3 linked regions of the Homo sapiens genome follow. The protein of the gene in region 1 purifies or fractionates together with the protein of each later gene. This does not show direct contact. Each region holds a gene or a part of one and is shown on either strand. Other genes may lie near its edges.

The links. Proteins that work in one complex are often made in the same cells at the same time.
Region 2: the proteins of HNRNPH1 (region 1) and HNRNPA1 purify together in Homo sapiens (affinity purification with mass spectrometry; 7 studies listed by BioGRID and IntAct, with this or other methods). This does not show direct contact.
Region 3: the proteins of HNRNPH1 (region 1) and HNRNPA2B1 purify together in Homo sapiens (affinity purification with mass spectrometry; 5 studies listed by BioGRID and IntAct, with this or other methods). This does not show direct contact.

Annotation. Positions count from the first base shown.
Region 1 is NC_000005.10:179,612,947-179,621,219, forward strand, and holds the end of HNRNPH1 (heterogeneous nuclear ribonucleoprotein H), read right to left. Parts: intron 8,090-8,273; coding exon 7,946-8,089; intron 6,462-7,945; coding exon 6,323-6,461; intron 5,378-6,322; coding exon 5,199-5,377; intron 5,115-5,198; coding exon 5,043-5,114; intron 4,987-5,042; coding exon 4,853-4,986; intron 4,704-4,852; coding exon 4,568-4,703; intron 4,165-4,567; coding exon 4,105-4,164; coding exon of another isoform or gene 4,075-4,104; intron 4,013-4,074; coding exon 3,923-4,012; coding exon of another isoform or gene 3,914-3,922; intron 3,273-3,913; coding exon 3,180-3,272; intron 2,650-3,179; coding exon 2,600-2,649; intron 2,014-2,599; coding exon of another isoform or gene 1,895-2,013; 3' UTR 1,232-1,894; downstream 1-1,231. UniProt on the Homo sapiens protein: This protein is a component of the heterogeneous nuclear ribonucleoprotein (hnRNP) complexes which provide the substrate for the processing events that pre-mRNAs undergo before becoming functional, translatable mRNAs in the cytoplasm.
Region 2 is NC_000012.12:54,283,726-54,287,587, forward strand, and holds the end of HNRNPA1 (heterogeneous nuclear ribonucleoprotein A1), read left to right. Parts: intron 1-86; coding exon 87-242; intron 243-532; coding exon 533-588; 3' UTR 589-592; intron 593-823; 3' UTR 824-3,362; downstream 3,363-3,862. UniProt on the Homo sapiens protein: Involved in the packaging of pre-mRNA into hnRNP particles, transport of poly(A) mRNA from the nucleus to the cytoplasm and modulation of splice site selection.
Region 3 is NC_000007.14:26,197,747-26,205,370, forward strand, and holds the start of HNRNPA2B1 (heterogeneous nuclear ribonucleoproteins A2/B1), read right to left. Parts: upstream 3,001-7,624; 5' UTR 2,832-3,000; coding exon 2,826-2,831; intron 121-2,825; coding exon of another isoform or gene 85-120; intron 1-84. Other genes in the region: CBX3 (chromobox protein homolog 3), read left to right, coding at 5,253-5,276. UniProt on the Homo sapiens protein: Heterogeneous nuclear ribonucleoprotein (hnRNP) that associates with nascent pre-mRNAs, packaging them into hnRNP particles.

The DNA of each region.
Region 1 (8,273 bases):
CCAGCAATTTACTCAGAGATGGTACCATCAAGCCCCCATGTTTGTCCGGTAGATAACACCCAGAGCCCCCTCACCTGTCACTTTGTGATGAATTTGAAGCTCCTGCACCTGGAACTGTTTTCCTGTAACCATTTGTCTTTAACTTTTTTGTCTGTTTTTCTTCCCTAAGATGGCTGCAGCTAGAATCCCCCTCCCCTCTCCAAACCAAAGTATAAAAGAAAATCTAGCTCCTTCTTCGAGGCCGAGATACTTTCATGCGGTAGCCGTCTCTCGGTCGCCGGCTAATAAAGGACTCCTGAACTCGTCTCCAAGTGTGGCGTTTCTAACTCGCTCAGGTACACCACTTGGAAGCAGCTTGAATACTTGCTATCATCATGTTGGAGCTTCGAACTACCAAAACGTGATATATTTAAGAGTTCATTTAAACTTCTCATGTTAGCTCTCAATCTCTACCTATCGTTCTACCTTAGGAGACTTACATGGAATTTTGCTTCCAAGTGGAATTGATTTTTAGGAATGACCCAAAAATACAGAAGTTCAAAACTTCCATTTGAAAACCATCTGTGAAGGCTGGGCAATGGCTCCAGCCTATAATCCCAGCACTTTCAGAGGCCGAGGTGGGCAGATCTCATGAGGTCAGGAGTTGGAGACCAGCCTGGCCAACATCGTGAAACCCCGTGTCTACTAAACATACAAAAAAAATTAGCCTGGAGTGGTGGTGGGCGCCTGTAACCCCAACTACTTGGGAGGCTGAGGCAGAAGCCCACAAGGTGGAGGTTGCAGGTGAGCTGAGATCACGCCACTGCAATCCAGCCTGAGACAACAGAATATAACTCTGCCTCAAAAAAAAAAACAAACCTATGAGCTTATGAGCTAGAAGAAACCCACATATTCATCACACCTCCCTTGCCTCCGGCACCTTCCCAGCCAAGCATGAAGGCCTCAAAGACATGCAGGCATGCAGTGAGGGCACTGGCGCCTCCCCCTTTGTTTTGTGCAAGTGCTTAATGAGTTACAGGCAGTTCAGATCAGGTCCTGTGCAGCCAAATGACATACAGCCCTTCCACCAGGGCCCCAAAGACGAGTTTACCTTCAGTTGCACTGGAGGGAAGACTGAAGACATCTACGCAACAGCCTCAACTGCCAAGCCAGAGATGTGGCCCTAGGCCCCAGGTGGGCACAGAGCACCAAGACTCAGTCCACATGACACTGAAGCACAGACAAGACAGAGTGCAGTTTTTAAAAGGAGGATTTATTTGACAAGTTTCACTTAGCGCAATATACCTAAAAGGAAATCACAATACAATGAAAGATTTAAATCAAGGCCTCAGAATTTCATACAAACACCAAGACCAAAATCCTAAGTATTGGTATTGCGTCTCAAATTTTTCCCATTAACTTAAAAAAAAAAAAAGCTTAAACTTACGTGCCTTACAGGTTATTAAATGAAACTAGAATTAACAAACATGCCAAAATGTTTCACTTTTAATAGTAGACACAGCTCCTATATTGTTTTACAAAAAAATAAAAGCATGTCTTTCAACATGCATCCAAAACAGTGTTCAATTTAACGTGGCAAAGGGCAACATTTAACATAATTCAACTGCTTTTACCTAAATACGCTTACTGCTTAAGTACATCCTATAACTAACTTGAGAAAAGCTGGAACTTAAGTTTAACAGTTATAGTTTACTCAGCTTCACTGTTACATCCTAGATGAGTATTGTATTCAAAAATACTGGGCCTTAAGTCTTCATAACAATCCTGATTTCCACTTAGAGTAAGCATAAATCACAAGCTTGTATTGCAGAAACTGTTAAACTGAAGTTTTCTTAAAGAAAAAAAAAAAAAAAAAAAAAAGGTTGACCAAGAGTCAGTGATCAGGATCGATCAATTACATTCCCCATCCACCACTCATACTGGACATGCTAGACAACCCTCCCATTCCGTTCACGCCCATAGATGCACGGCTTCCACTACTGTAGTAGCTGCTGTTCACTGCTCCTTGGTTACCTGCAAAGAGATCAATTTGACAAGTTAGGAGTAATATCAGACTACCAGTCAAATAAAATATAGTATTCCAAGAAAAAGTTTAAAAAGTATACGAGTACAAATGGCTGCTGTCCAAGTGGCGAGACGCATGTTTGGGAAAGGGGAATCCCGACTCCAAACAAGCCTCAATTAACCCCTTTTCTCTGCAGTACCAACTTGCCAGACTCTTGTGCTACCATTTTAACGGATTCTTCAGGATCAACATGAAAAATTAAGTTTAAAGGAAAACTAGTGTTTTTCAAAAATTGCAAAATTACTTCGTATTTTTAAAGCTAAACAAGGCATTTTTAAAAAAAATTTAACATAAACATTCACAATGTGTCCCTCGAATGGCATTTGAGAAAAGGGAGCACAGGGGAAGTCTCTTGCTTTTCCTATTCATGGTGGGCAGGAAGTGAGACAACCAAGCTGGACTAAAGGCAACTCACTGTGCCCAAATGGCAGCCTCCATGGAGTTAAGTCAGAGCCATTGACTGCTATAGAAAGCATTATTACAACATATCAGTATTTGCTATTGGGAATTTATATTTTTTGAGAAAATATTTACCTATGCAATGTTTGATTGAAAATCACTGGAGTTTTCCTGTAAAACTTGGTCTGCAAAAGGATTTTGTAGGGTAAGACTATAATACCAAAATCACCATTCTTTAGACCAATTGAAAAAAAATAAATAAAACCAATCCTAGGTTAACTGACTAATAAATACGATCCTGAACCCAACCACCATTCTACTATTTCAAATTCTCCCTCTGTCTAAAACTGACTTAATGCTAACCAAAAGACAAAAAAGTGAACAACTTTATTTAATGTTTTAATACATGGAGGCAGATATTTTCTGGCTCGACAGTATTCCAAAGCTGCAATGACTAGTTCTTAATTCAAAGAACACTTCCCCCTCCCAATGATTGTTTCTGAAAATTAGCTAGTAAAAACAGTTACATTTGGATTGAAAGCATACATTTCATAACCCAATTTCACCGAAAGGAGCCTGCATCTTCCCAACTAAAGGCACCTGCCTGCGACTTACTCTAAGTACAGTAACAGGCTTTACCATAACTTACTCTAAGTACAGTAATGAACAGGCTTTACCATAACTTACTCTAAGTACAGTAACAAACAGGCTTTACCGTATCCACTCATGCTGCTCTGGCCACCGTAGCCGCCTCCGTAACCCCCACTCAGCTGCTGGCTGGCTGGGCCCCCGTAGCTGGACTGGTTTGCTGTTAAGTTAAGAAAACATTAGAACCTTTTTTCTTATGTGATGTGGTACCTGGTGGTACCGGGCTTGTAATTCTATAGCTATCATTTTCCAGTCTTGATCTTACATTACTGTAACCCTCTGCCTCCTTCTGCCTACTGTCTATAACCAGGCCACCCTTCTATCCATCATTTGAGCCAGTCAAATATTGATAAACCAAAGTGCTAACGGTACACACATCAGCAGGACTAAAATCAACATGATTCCGTAAGTAGAGGCATTTTGTGAAGATCTTATGAAACTGCTTGACTGGATTTAGTGGGTTCCCCCTCAGTTTGATACATCAAAGGCATGTCAATACACCTAATTATGCCCACATTTATCTTAATCCTGTTTTGCTATTGATTTAAACTTTATACTTAGAAAATTTAAGTAGTTTCACTCCGTAGTCCCCTCCCCCAAGACTACTTAAACCTAATTTGAATTATCTATCCTAAGGAACTTCATAACTCACAAGGATTTAAGTAAGCCAGATACAAAACTCAAATATCAAGAAACTGCTTTGCCTAAGTTTCTTATGCTAAACTTATTAAATAAATAGATTAACTTAACTTATAATTGACTTATACAGATATAAACGTTTTGGTTTTTAAAAAAACTAACGATATTTACACAAGCCCATGCCTCCCATCATTTGGCTACCATAAGCACCACCGCTTGCTCCTGCTGTAGAATTCAAGAAGAGTTCTACATATCTGTGTTCTGAAATGAGAGAAAAGGCATACAAGGTTAGCTTAAAAAAAAGACACTAAAGTGATATTTACACAAACCCATGCCTCCTAGCATTTGGCTACCGTAAGCACCACCGCTTGCTCCTGCTGTAGAATTCAAGAAGAGTTCTACATATCTGTGTTCTGAAATGAGAAAAAAAAAGTTTGAAAATGTTTGTTGGTGAAACAAAACAGAATAAGCACTTTTATAAAGTTTTTAAACAAGCAGATCTGTGAACTTCAAATACTTTGGCAAAGAAATTCTAGCTACTTCTCTTAGGTGATCTACTTTAACTCCAAAATCTAGCCTTTACATATTCATCTGTATTGTCAATTAAGGATATACACTTCAAGATGTGCATATCACAAATCCGTTATACTAATTTTTAAAACCCAAACCTTCAACACACTGCCCCCGCATCCCCCAAGAATTAATCTATTACTGGAGAGGAAACTTCTCATATATCCTTATTTTTCCATTTCTCTATTGTAAATGTTAGTCACACAATCACCTGTTAAGAGCCCACAAATGCTCAATCACACTTACGCATATTTGCTTTGTCTTTTGACATAGCTGCCACAGCATCTTCATGAGTTGCGAACTCGACATCTGCTTCACCAGTTACTCTGCCATCAGGACCAATTTCAATGTGTACTCTCACAGGGTTGAGCGGTGAAAAAAACTACAACACAAGGCATTTCAAAGAATTCAACCAACTTTCTAACGTTACAAAAAAAACCTAAAATTTCTAACATAGTGCTCACATTTATAGAATAAGGCTGACTTACTGCCATACTGAAATATTGACTTGTGAGTTCATCTCACACTTACATTATAAATGTCATTCTCAGTAGCTCTGTAAGGTAATCCCCGCATGTGTACACAGTGTCCTGTTGTGCTCTGGAAAGTAGAGCCACCATCCCCGTATCTGTGATCAGACATTCCTGAAAAACAGTAATTGAGGTCTAGATGGACAAGAGTGTAAGCATCCTTCAACTGAGAAATTCAATTCTTACCTTACCTCTTCCAAATCTATCTGACCCAAATCCATAGCCATCATTATAGCCATTGTAATCATCATAGCCTCCATAGCCTGAAAGACAAAGTACAATCAATCAAATAAAACACCTAGACAAAGGAACAGACGACTTGCCGAACCTTACGAATCCTCACGTACCTCCACCATAAGCACCACGCCTCATCCTCTCAAAGCCAGCTCCTCTGCCAATGCTGTTATACCCTCTACCAGCCCCAGGTCTGTCATAAGGACCTGGCCGCTGCATGGCCATAAGCTTTCGTGGTGGATCATAATGAGTTCTAACTTCAGCTCTACTGCTCTTAAAGATTTCAATATACCTAAAGCATTGTTCATAAGGAAGGGGTAGGGAGGGGAGAGAAAACATTAGTTCATTTTATACAGGTATTTAGTTATACAAGAAAACAATCTAGTCATAGCCATGAAACTGACTAATATTTAAAGCCAGATTTCTTATATTTGCATAGGCAATGACCAGAAATTCACTCAATAAATAGTAAGACAATGTAAACTTTATAGAAAAAAAAAAAAAACTCACTCCTCTGAGGCAGAGCCCAACCTTAGGGGTAGAGAGGAGTACTGTAAATAAATGTTTTAGGAGGGAAATAATTCCACTCAACTTTCAACATTTCAAGTCTTAAATCCATTGGCAGCATGTATAGCAAGTGGGCTAAAAAGCCAGCCTCCACCAACAGTCCAGCCCACACTACACATTTCCTTTCGCCAATAAATACCCCAGCCTATGCTTTTAGTAAGAATCAGCATAGGTAAGCGCATGCTTCAATGAAAAATAGTCACAAGCAAAGAGAATAAAACCTTTTGTGACAATTTCTTGAAAGCTATGCTTATTAATACTATGCAGAATATTTATATACAGCAAGAAAAAGTTTGTTGCATTTCAACTTTAAAAACAAGATCAGAAAGTATCACATTTTCTTATGGTAATATTAATTTATTCTAGGTGGGTGTTATTACAGCTAAAGCCAGGTTTGCATTAATTTTTTAAAGCCATAGTCTCTCAACTCTATTGATTGGGGTTAATAAGACTCACAAAATTGTCAAGCAGACCAATTAACTAGGGACAAATTTCAAACCTAAAATTTAGTTTGCGTGTAACGTGGGACTGACACAAGTTTGGAAATCATGGCAAAACATCAATTACCTAGGACTACAAAACATTAATTTCTTCTTTTAAGCAGAGAGAATATGGATTTAATTGTTTACCATAAGAAAAGTGACATATCCAACCAACCATCCATCCCCACCTGTGCCCTATTCTTTCCTTGTGTTTCTTTAGAGCCTTTTCAGCTATTTCCTGTGAAGCAAACTGCACGAAGGCCTCCCCCGTACTCCTCCCCTGGAAGTCCACCGGCAATGTTATCCCATTTGGCACGATTTCCAACCCTTCAACCCAAGGACAAATAACCCCAGTAGGGGGGCAATATTAACATCACAAGCCCAGAAATGATTCTTCTTATAGCTTTAAATAAACCAGAATTTTTAACTTTAGGTGAATGGTATGCTTTCAACAAGTACTCTTTAAATATGCATTGCAATAATATGAAGTTCCATTATTATAAAGTATAACTATTCTTAACACACCCATGGTACAGTATATATTAAAAAAAACTTGCTGAACACAGGATGCATTAAGAATTCAACAACTTAAGAACACATATCTATGCAACTTAATGTTGAGAATTATACAATTCAATTAAGTTTTAAGCATTAAATAACAGTTTTACTAAATTCAAAACACCTTTTACCTCATTTTATATTTCAATGCTTTAAGTTATTGGAACTTCAAGTTTTTAAAAAGGTATACATTTACAACATTTCATATAAAAACTGAAACATTAAATTATAATTGACAAACACAACAATCTAAACTTTCAACAAAACTGATCTACACAGCACAATCATGCATGCTTATGCTCTAACAGTAGTTATGATTCACTTCTGGAAATTCCGTCTATGAAAAATCCTTTCCGTGGATACATTCCCAAGCTTACAAAAAGGACTTAAAGCACTTTCCTAGAAGATATGAAATTATGTTCATATTTAACGTTGACAGCATTCAATTCTCACCAATTTAGTGTCAAAACAAAACAGACTTGATTTTAAAAATTCTGACATTAGGACTCGATACATATATCAATTTTTAACATACTACACTAAACCATGAAAGGATTTCCTGCTTCCAGCGTATCACATCATAAATATTAATACTTAAAATATACGATATCTTATCTAACATTGTTAAACATGCAATCTTATCAGCTCTTCAGCATAAAAACATTCAAATACTTTAGGCCCAGGAACAATTTCAAAACACTTATTTCAGATACTGAGACTACAAGCATTCAAACTACTCTCACTACATCTGATTTTCAGTAAGTTTATACCACACAGGTTAAACCAAGTCTTTCATAAACCGACTTTTGCATTAAAGAGAATTAGACCATTAGATGCTTCTGGTCACATGACCCAAATACGTGTCTCTTGCAACACAGACACTTGCCATAATTTACAACAACCTAATTCATCGCACTGATGATCTGCTGGTAAAGGGATCTTACCTTTAACTTGAGGTACTTAGCTGGACACCAATGTGAGGAAAGTAGTTAAGCTGTTGAGGGCAATCCTCAATGAAAGATCTACTCTGAACTATAATACTAAATATAGGCAAAGTTAACATTTTGGAAGTACTTCATTTCCACCTTTAAGATGGGCTTAAATTATTTGAAGGTCTCTAGGAAGAAAACATTAATTCATTGGCAATTTACAACCTACTGAAATACCTAAGCTACTCAACTTTAACGTCTATTAAATCACCTTGCCATAAGCTAGCCAAAACTCACTGCTCAGCAACAAACATGACTACATACCTGAGAAGAACTGAACAATTTCTTCCTTGCTACATCCAAAGGGAAGTCCTCTAAGCCGTACAAAGCCATCATTGGCCGTGTCAGGACTATTTGGACCAGTATGCTTCAACACCCAATCCATTTCAACGTTGTTTGACTTGAATACTGAAAGAGGTGCTTAGAATTAGTCACTTTTGGAAAATTAGATAACAAAGTTCAGACTTCCTGGGTCTTTAGATAAGCTAGGAAGAGCTGCCACAAACTCCCTTAGATGACCATTTCCATGCAGTCAAATACCTAAAATTCAGAAGGGGTGAGACCTCTATTGTTTAATGCTTTATTTACTGTA
Region 2 (3,862 bases), on another chromosome or scaffold:
ACCTTATTTTATTCTGACTGCTAAACAGAATTGGAAACTAACATCATCCTCAGGTAACAGATAAAGGCCCTCTTTCCCATTCATAGGAAGCAATTTTGGAGGTGGTGGAAGCTACAATGATTTTGGGAATTACAACAATCAGTCTTCAAATTTTGGACCCATGAAGGGAGGAAATTTTGGAGGCAGAAGCTCTGGCCCCTATGGCGGTGGAGGCCAATACTTTGCAAAACCACGAAACCAAGGTATGGTATCTATGTAATTTTGGATAATGTCAAAAGAGTGTCTGTAGCTACTGCTGGGAAGAAAGCCCTTTAACTGCTATGTCTGGGCAGCAAAACGTTTATAGTTTAGAACCTTCAGAAAGTGATAATTTGATCACAAATTAGAAAAATCATGGGACCTCTTTACCACCTCCCTTGTAGTAGGGCCATTTTTAAATGGCCAGACACTTGAATTTAACTTTTATTATCCCAAATATGAAAACATTACTGTTGGCACTTTGAAACTTTAAAAGAAAAATTGTACTTTTCAGGTGGCTATGGCGGTTCCAGCAGCAGCAGTAGCTATGGCAGTGGCAGAAGATTTTAATTAGGTAAGTAAGCACCTTTTTGTGTGTTGACATAATTTTTTAAATTGCTGATGAACCCAATAACCCTAATGTAGCTGAGCAGTGCAACATAGTTAACATTATAATTGCAGTAATTGTGGATATAAAGTTAATATTCAGATCAGCAAAATTTGTGGGAAACAAACTTGATATTGGATTGTAGCCTTGAGTCTTAATATGTTTAGATTAACAACTTTATTCCATATTGTTCAACAGGAAACAAAGCTTAGCAGGAGAGGAGAGCCAGAGAAGTGACAGGGAAGCTACAGGTTACAACAGATTTGTGAACTCAGCCAAGCACAGTGGTGGCAGGGCCTAGCTGCTACAAAGAAGACATGTTTTAGACAAATACTCATGTGTATGGGCAAAAAACTCGAGGACTGTATTTGTGACTAATTGTATAACAGGTTATTTTAGTTTCTGTTCTGTGGAAAGTGTAAAGCATTCCAACAAAGGGTTTTAATGTAGATTTTTTTTTTTGCACCCCATGCTGTTGATTGCTAAATGTAACAGTCTGATCGTGACGCTGAATAAATGTCTTTTTTTTAATGTGCTGTGTAAAGTTAGTCTACTCTTAAGCCATCTTGGTAAATTTCCCCAACAGTGTGAAGTTAGAATTCCTTCAGGGTGATGCCAGGTTCTATTTGGAATTTATATACAACCTGCTTGGGTGGAGAAGCCATTGTCTTCGGAAACCTTGGTGTAGTTGAACTGATAGTTACTGTTGTGACCTGAAGTTCACCATTAAAAGGGATTACCCAAGCAAAATCATGGAATGGTTATAAAAGTGATTGTTGGCACATCCTATGCAATATATCTAAATTGAATAATGGTACCAGATAAAATTATAGATGGGAATGAAGCTTGTGTATCCATTATCATGTGTAATCAATAAACGATTTAATTCTCTTGAATGAAATGACAACTGTATGGATTTGGGACTGGCAGAGATTTGGACTTTCCCTACCCACTCCCCCTGATAATAATGTTGAATGCTTCTATCACAATTCAAGTTCAAAGCTCTGCCAGGGAATAGAAACTAGCTGCTGGCTAATGCCGCTCCATAAATCCGCAGATTTGAAGTGTCTGGGAGGCCTTTTAAAAATAACTAATATCAGAAAGCATTTTAATGAACGTAAAGATAGGCTTACATTAAAGGAAAACTGCAGTTTGACTGGGTTCTGGTTGGGTGGGCCTTCAGAGGTTCTATCAGTTAACTATACTAATTAATTTGGAGATTCAAACCATACCAATAGAAACTAAATTTTTCTACATAATTTCATGTTAACTGCAGTTTCCCTTTATGGCACAAGGGGTCACACAACCTACCTAAAATGTTAATTGTATAGAAAATGATTTCTAAACCTTTAACAGTTAATATCCAATAATGTGTTATTTGTACATAGATTCTTTTGAGCCTTACCTTTGGTGCTCTCTCAATTTCAGTGCTATTGTACCTAGTAGCATAGAGATTTGTCTATCAATAGGACTGTATATTCCATCCCATGGGTGTGTTGGAAGTTTGGGGAGGAGGAGGGTGGTGGGAGGTGGGTGGGAGGTGGTGGTGGGTGGGAAAGCATGGGTGATAGTTCCATGATACTGGCTGAGTTTGCAATAGCAGGTGGAACCCTAACTATTGAGGGAGTTTGCAGATACCTCAGGATTCGTGACAATGCCTTTAAAGATCCAGGAGAGATGTTCAGCTACTAGGAACTGCTAGCAAGTATAGCGCGAATGGCTCCGAGCTCAGACACTCTACAGCTGAGAGTAGACACTTGTGGTATGTGGAGTACAGATAAGCCAGGGGCAGGCCACGGCACGCTCCATGAAAGCTAGGAGGGAGTGAAATATCAGTGATCATCGCAAGGAAGGAGGCAGACAAGAGTAAGGCACACCTGACTCTTAGGACTAGCAGTCAGAACCAGGAGGAAAGGTTTTATTGCTATGCGGGTAGGTAAGAACAGATTTTACTTACATCCATATAGTTACTTAAAGTCCAGTTTTCTGTTAAACATTTTTCTTAATATATTGAGCCAAAACTAGTCCAGTTAAGCTGAACTTGGTTTTTCTGGAGATGAATTGTTTTAAATTGACACCCTATTGATGGCTCCCAGTTGAAGGAAGTGAGCACATTATTTGTACTGTGAATATAAATTTTTGCCCTTTTATTTATCTTCCTTTGACCCATTTCCTTAAAATAATGGCTCAAAGTAATAGACTTCCCCAAATGGTGGGGGGATGGGTGGGTTATTAATGGGAGGTATGGGGGGTTTAGCTTGAGATGGGACTTGGTCTTAGAGCTAGTTCTAAAGGTTGTTTACTTTTCTAGGGAGGAGTCTGCTACTAGTCTTATCAGCTCTTAAAAACAGAAACTCATCTGTCCAAGTTCGTGGCAGAAAGGTAAGTTTTTACAAATTAGTGCTCAGCAAAAGAATGCCCTGCGTTCCCAAAGTAAAAGAATGACAAGCTGTACCTTAAACCAAAACACTTCGTAATCTCATCCAATTGCAAAAAGAGTTATTAGCCAACCAGGTATTCCCAGTAGTGACAGTGGATATAACTGTGTAGTCATTCACCTCTGCTTATATGAATACTTTACAACCTCTTTTGCCTTTTGCAGGAACGTCCTTGTGAAGACCTTTATCTGAGCCACTGTACTTCGTTATCACTGCCATGCAGTTTACATGAGCTGTTCTGCAGCTCAAATTCCATTTTGTGAATGGGTTTTTTTTTTTAATAAACTGTATTTAACTTAGTTCTGCTTGTTTTGTCCTCCTTTGTGATATCTATGGTTAATAACATGTTGAAATTCAGGTTAGAGAGGATATGGTTGATTCTAATGTGAATTTCTATATTTAGATTCATCCCATTCAGCTTCATGGTTTAATGAAAATAGAAATGGGTTCTCACTACAGGAGTAATTCTTGGCTCACTATAAGTAAACTTTACTATTGATCCAATTGAGCATGTCCTTTTTCTAGCTCCCCTGGCAAGGGAAAATCAAGTTGTAGCACTGCCATTGAGCTCAGTATGTCTCTATTGGGACTTACGCTCACCATCTGTTGCAGAAGGACATAATGGATTTCATCTTTGGCAAACAAGTTGGGCTTATTGGCCAGCTGTCTCATACTTCAGTAGAATTCTCAAGCCAGGAGTAAGAAAGTGAACTGAATGAGAGGCAAGACTTAGCCTCTCAAAGATAGCCTAAAAATGTAAGGACTATTTTGGAAGCAATAATTGTACCCTCTAGCAAAT
Region 3 (7,624 bases), on another chromosome or scaffold:
ACCATTTCAATTTTTATTTACATTTTCCTCTTTGTATGCAGGAAATTAAATTCTTAAATATGAGGTGACCTGCTGGCAGAGTACCTTTTTCCTCTCCAAAGGAACAGTTTCTAAAGTTTTCTGGGGGGAAAAAAAAAACTTACATCAAATTTAAACCATATGTTAAACTGCATATTAGTTGTGTTACACCAAAAAATTGCCTCAGCTGATCTACACAAGTTTCAAAGTCATTAATGCTTGATATAAATTTACTCAACATTAAATTATCTTAAATTATTAATTAAAAAAAAAACTTTCTAAGGAAAAATAAACAAATGTAGACCGTGATTATCAAAGGATTATTAAAGAATCTTTACCAAAAATTTCAACCCTACAACCTAAAAACGCAAATTTCTATTTTTAAACATCAGAAAATAACTCTTGGTTCATTACTTATGACCCAAAGTTTTTATTTCACTATTCAATATCTGAAAAGTATCATTTATTTTCCCTTAACTGCCCCCTCTGGTGGTGATTCTAAGTATCTCAGCCAAAAAAACACAACTTTTTACAACAAACACTAAGTTTCTCCATATGACTCTCAGTTACGAAAATATTTAAAGATATGCATTAGAAATAACCTTAAAAATTACTCTTATAACCAGGACAAATTAATTTTTATGACCAGCAGCACTCGAAGCTTAAAAAGTTTAATTTTTGGTGGACATGTCTATATTTGATATATGACAATACAGAATATGAATTACTCAGCTTAACCATATGTACAATAAAATACATTCACGTGGCATAATCTCTAAGATAACAATTACTGAAAGCTGAAGCTTACTTGATTGGCCATGTGGCAAGCGACAGGCACAAAACAATTTTCCAAGTCAATAGGAAAAACCTCAGAGCTGAAATCTTTATATGCTGTACTACACAGCTGTATTCTGGGCACTTATGAATGTTAAGGAAACCTGTCTTAAAAGTTAACTAGGTTAAAAAACCTCAAACGAGAGAAAGTGATATCCAGGACCAACTGCTACAAACGCATAATGCAAACTAAAAAGTCACACGTAATTTTCAATCAATTATTTTTTGTTCCTAGCAAGCAGCATTAATTGCTGCTCTCATCCCAGTTCTACGGAGCTCTCCCTCCATTCGCATGCTCCCAACTCCTAAAAAGTAGTGGTAAAACCCAGTTCAGATTTTTTTCCTGTAGTTTTCATGACTCGTAAAAATTAAAGAAAAAATTAACTGAAATGATCAAACTAGCTCCTATGAGACACAAAGCAGTCTTTTGAAATGGTTACTTGTCACGATAGTTATTTTCATTTTTTCAGCTAGTTTTTATTCTTAATTGTCGTCAGCACATAGGTTATCTCTAAACTGAAATTACGGATAATGTACATTTATAACAAGTTTTACAAATCACTAACAAAAAGCAAAAACTCATTACTTACCTCACAATTTATCCAAACTTACCCGATGTCCACTATCGATTTTAAACAATGTTATTTTATAAACGTGCTTAGGGTCAAAGAAAATAACCAGGTAGACCCCCTTCGCTTGAGACCTTATGCTTATCAATGTAATGTTCAACCAAGATTGCAAACAAAATGAGAAAAGTAACAAAGTTCAAATACAGAGCGGCCCAGGCCCAAAACAGTTTTGCACATCAATCCATACGCATTACAGGAAGGAGCCTCTGAAGCCATGTTTTAATCGAAGTATAACTAAGGACAAAATCGTTATTTCACTTTCCTCGTAATCATCTATAAAGGTCCATGGATCTGTCCCGTAAGGGTTAAACTTCTCAGTAACAACATTACTTAAAATGAGTCAGCTCTACAACTTAAACGGAATCCTTAAGAACAGTAAAGGATTCTGACGCGAATATCCCTCCCCCGCCCAGAAAACCACCTTCGTCCCTGCCCCTCGTGGCCGATGGCTTCCAATTTATGTTTATTTTGCCGCGGTTCATCTGTCGTTTTACTGACTGCAGACCCAGATAAAACCGTTACTCAAAGGAAAAAAAAGACAGGAAAAACATAAAATGGTTTCTTTGTCCTACGGCTCGCATTGAACCCGGCCCGACGCCCTGGGTGGTGATATCTTCTCTGAAACCGGGCCCGCAAACCCGGAGCACCCCCCCTCCCCGCTCTTCGGTGTGGCTTCCGAACGCAATGGCGCCATTTCATCGAGGGGAAGGCTGAGCGCCTTTAATGAGGTGCGCAGGACTCTAAAGATCCAAGCTCACAAAACACTCCAAATCCACCTCGAAACGATATGAAAACAGCCCGAGAAGAAAAAAAAATAGTTAACCACTTCTACTTCTTGATAGAGAAAGCACACTAAGAAAATAAAAGAGTTATAAGGAAAACGCTGAGAGGAAGGCGAGCCATGAAAATGGCGGCCGCCAAATCCGGTTCCCGGGAGAGAGGGGGAGGGGAAGCTCCGCAGCCTCGCTCACGAGGACCTGCTGCCCGCCGAAACGCTCGCCGAGGAGACGCCGTGGCCCCCGAAGCAGCGTGCTTTAGAAAGGGAATAAGAATTCCCGCCTCCGCGCCCCACTTTCACCCCAGCGGGGCAGCGTCCGCCATGTGAAAGCTCCCCATCCCCCACCCCCAGTGAAGGGAAATGGCGCCGGGAGGCTGAGGGTGGGGAAGCTGTTTGTACGCTCAGGCCTCCGCTCAAGACCCCGTTCATAAACCTTAAGCCCCACTGCTACTGAATTGGTCCGATTTCCTGCCTCTCTCCCACGGAGGCGGCTGGCCGACTTCCACTGAGGCGCCAACGGCCTCGCCATGCCCTTTTCAATAACTCATTGATTTCAAACCCGTTACCTCCATCGCGGACTCAGTCGCTTCAGCCCGATTTCCCGCAGCCGAGCGAGATGAGAGAGATCTCCGCGGACGAACACGAACCGGACTCGTCCTGGCGCTGTAGTGAGAACTGCCGCTGCTCGAGAAACAACTCTGCGAGGAGCACCTCCGCACGGGACCCGGCGCTGCTGCTACTGCCGCTAGAGCCGCTGCCGCCGCTTTTCTAGAACCTTCCCCCCCACTAACGCGTCTTCCGCTACGTCAGGCCGTCGCGTAAACGCCCTATCCGCCGCCAATGGCGGGAAGGCTCTACGCCCCACCTTACGCCAAATGCGTACTCCTCCCACCCTTGCGGCCAGAGACAGTACCCGACGTTACTTCCGTAAATGCGCTCAATGAATTGCGGAAGGCTAGAGTCCTGCTAGTTACTACCTCTTGGAATAGGGTCCCGCCCCCTGCCTTGGCGCAAGGCAGGTGAGAAACGGTCGCGCAGTTTGAAATTAACGCCGACGGGAGGGGCTTAATCCGCAGCCTGGAGATCCAGCCCCCTCAACCCGGGAGGTGGTCCCTGCAGTTACGCCAATGATAACCCCCGCCAGAAAAATCTTAGTAGCCTTCCCTTTTTGTTTTCCGTGCCCCAACTCGGCGGATTGACTCGGCCCCTTCCGGAAACACCCGAATCAACTTCTAGTCAAATTATTGTTCACGCCGCAATGACCCACCCCTGGCCCGCGTCTGTGGAACTGACCCCTGGTGTACAGGAGAGTTCGCTGCTGAAAGTGGTCCCAAAGGGGTACTAGTTTTTAAGCTCCCAACTCCCCCTCCCCCAGCGTCTGGAGGATTCCACACCCTCGCACCGCAGGGGCGAGGAAGTGGGCGGAGTCCGGTTTTGGCGCCAGCCGCTGAGGCTGCCAAGCAGAAAAGCCACCGCTGAGGAGACTCCGGTCACTGTCCTCGCCCCGCCTCCCCCTTCCCTCCCCTTGGGGACCACCGGGCGCCACGCCGCGAACGGTAAGTGCCGCGGTCGTCGGCGCCTCCGCCCTCCCCCTAGGGCCCCAATTCCCAGCGGGCGCGGCGCGCGGCCCCTCCCCCCGCCGGGCGCGCGCCCGCTGCCCCGCCCTTCGTGGCCGCCCGGCGTGGGCGGTGCCACCCCTCCCCCCGGCGGCCCCGCGCGCAGCTCCCGGCTCCCTCCCCCTTCGGATGTGGCTTGAGCTGTAGGCGCGGAGGGCCGGAGACGCTGCAGACCCGCGACCCGGAGCAGCTCGGAGGCGGTGAAGTCGGTGGCTTTCCTTCTCTCTAGCTCTCGCTCGCTGGTGGTGCTTCAGATGCCACACGCGTCCCGGGGGCCCGGTTCTCCGCTCCCCTCCCCTCCCCTTCTCGCCGGACCCCGCGCCGGGAGCTGCGGGAAGGAGTGGAGGGTCGGGCGGTGGCCTCGCGGCTGGCCTGGCGCGCGGCCAGCGCCGGTAGTTAGTGGGGGGACTGCTCTGCCCTCGAGGGGGTAGGGAGCTGTGGCGACGGTTGCCCCATTTCGAGACAAAGCGCATTTCCCCCTCCCCTCCCCCACCCGCGTTCCGGCGGAGGCGCCCCCTCCCCCAGCCGCCACGCGGGGCTGGGTCGAGACTTGGGCCTCCCGGAGGGCGGCGCGTGGTCCCGCGTCCGCGAGGCCTGGCGGCGCGCGGCCGGCTGTCCCGAGGCTGCGGCGACCGCCCAGTTAACGTGGCCGCCGCGGGGGTAGGCGCGTGCGGTGTGGCGCAGTGCCCTTGAGCCCCCGTGCCGCGGCCTTTGTTTCTCCCCGCGGATGCGCTGACCACGAGGCCCGCGCTCCCGGGTGGGGGCGGGCACCCGCGCTTAGGCCTCTGGACGCCGGGCTTCAGCGGCGGGGGTCGGGAGCGGGTGTTTGCAAGAGGTGATTCTTTTTTCAAAGTGTCACGAAACGGGGTTGAAGCATCTTAAGTTTTTTCCTTTTGTTATTTAATTACCGATTGGAAAGAGGGAGGGTTTCTGAGCAGAAACCAAGTTGGGATTGCAGAACAGAGAAGATTCACAGTGCTTTACCGTTGTGAGTTGTTTGGGTAATCGTGCCTGGTTTTAAACCGAAAGGATTGTCCTTTAAAAATGGAACATGGACTTTATTATAAATGGGACTTAGATTGGAAAAGACATTGGTCCCCTATTTTAAGCCATGTGAAGCTGTTTTAGGTACCAGGATCCCCAGTAAAGTCTTTCTAGACTCACATGGTTAGGACACGTACTTAAGTACATCATAAGCAATGTAGGTAGGAGCGCAGATCTACTCTGGATTTGTATTCACGTTTGAAATGTGCGCTCTCTACTTGGGGGTTGGAATCCAAACAGAATTTGTATTTAGTTACCTTTTTTGTGTCATGCAAACTTACCTTAACTGTCATGCATTTTTCTAGTAATAGCTCTTCAAGTCTGCAATAAAAAATGGCCTCCAACAAAACTACATTGGTAAGTTAATGAAAACCTAAAATATGTAAGGATTTAACTCAAGTTTTTTTTCCCCACAGTATAACTTTGCATCTCTGTGGCTGAGAAATTTACATCCACATATTTCCCAGCTCTCCCAGTGTAAATTACAGGGGAAAATTAAGAGAAAAACGAATTCATTACAGGGAGATACTGGCTTGGCTTAATAGTGTCTTAACTAGTTCAAAGAAGGCTAATCTTTGAAGGACAGTGCAATGTGGATTTTGCTGAGGATTTTTATCTTCAAATAGAAATACACACATTTTTGCAGCGTTGAAAAATGTTACATAAAATGGTAAAGCCCTTGTTGGTTGGCATAATTTTTCTTAAATCCCCAGAATTCTGGAGAAGTATTTTCATTAAAGCCCAATTTAAAGAACAAGGTACCTTGTGCACCTAGGTTGGAGCAAAAGTCATTGAATCTTTCAAATTACTTTGGTCACTTTATCTTGTTTTAACTTACTCTAAAACATAGAAGAATATTAAGTTTAATTCATTGCAGTGTTTTGTTTTTTAAACAAAATGATCGAAATCGCAAATATGAGCCAGAAGGGAGAAAAGGCTAGATTTTTTTTTTATCTTATTCAGCCATGTCATGTTACAAGTTTTTTTAAACCCTGGAATATTCACATAAAAATCATGAAATTCAAAGTTACAGTTTTCACAATATTTAACATTGCATTAATCTTAAACACGTAAAGGTGAATGTTAATGTCTCCTAGGTAAAATAAAGCATTTGTTTTTGGCTTGTATGTGCTCTCTCTGGGTTTCACACTAAAAAGGGCACGTTAGTGATTTTTAATTTGTGCCATCATTAGATTCTGCATTAAGTCTGTTTACCCTGCATTAGATTCTGCATTAGATTCTGTTTACCCTGGAAAACAGAAGTTGTTTTTGCACGCAATTGATAGCCTTTGGGGTCTGTTATTGTATTTAGTTTATTTTGTGAAGGATCACAGGTTGGCCACTTTAAAAGTTCTTAACTTTCCATTTTAAAAATTCATTAGTGTTGTGAGATATGTGTGCTGTTAATTTCACTTAAATAATGGGAAATTTATTTTGACTCATCCACTTTTGGAAAAAAGTGCTGGGTTAAGGCAAATATATACTATAAAAGAAAATAGTGAGCATTTGAAACTAGCTTATGAATGCCATAGTAGTGAATGAATACTGTATGGCATTTTGTCTGCCTTTTTTTTTTTGTAAACCTTAGTGTGTATCCTTTTCATTTTCTGTATTTATTGTTGACTTTATTTTGTTAGCCTTCTCCCTTTGTGGCAGTAGCTGTTTTGTTTTTCATGTAGTATAGGTATCTGATACACTTCTGTCTATTACAGTTTGTCTTTGCTCCTCCCACCATTATTCCTACCTTCTTGTACTGTACAGTGGCAGAAAGCTGTTTGGGCCCAGTACTCAAGTATCTTGACTAATGAGAATCATAACACCTGACTTAGAAATGGTATCCAAAAACGTCAGGTGTTTGCTGCATGTTTTTGTATTTCAGGGGATTTTTATTTTGTGTGTGTGTATGTGTTACCTATATGCTTGCATAGCTTGAAATGCCCTTTTGCAGTCTTGAGGCCTTTCTTACATATCTGTCTGCACACTTCATATGCCTGCATAGCTTGAAATGTCCTTCTGTAGCCTTGAGGTGTTCTTAACTTTTTTCTGCTTGCTGCTTTACTTGTGGGATGGCTTTAATGATTGAGCAATTAAGGTTTATCTTTTTTAAATAGTATTTGGGTTTTTTGTTTTTGTGTTTTTTTGAGACAGAGTTTTTCTCTTGTTGTCCAGGCTAGAGTGCAATGGCGTGATCTTGGCTCACCGCAACTTAAGCCTCCTGGGTTCAAGCAGTTCTCCTGCCTCAGCCTCCCAAGTAGCTGGGATTACAGGCATGCACCACTATGCCTGGCTAATTTTGTATTTTTAGTAGAAACGGGGTTTCTCCATGTTGGTCAGGCTGGTCTCAAACTCCTGACCTCAGATGATCTGCCCACCTCGGCCTCCCAAAGTGCTGGGATTACAGGCATGAGCCACTGCCCCCGGCAATAGCATTTGCTTTAAGATGAAATGTTAAGATGGATTCCTTCTCAGCCCATAGGATCTTCTGATTAACCATTTCAGGGTTTTTTTTCCCCCATTTTTAATCCTCTCATAAAAATTTTCCCCATTTTTAGTCCTCTCATAGGAAATCTTGAGCCATTGGAAAGAGCTGGTTCACGTTGGTTTCCTGCTTCTCTTAAATAGTGTCATACCAAAGAAAATGCCTGTTTAAAGTGAATTTGGTTACCAGTATAGACTTTCTCTTGAGAAACCAGGAAGGAAGGATT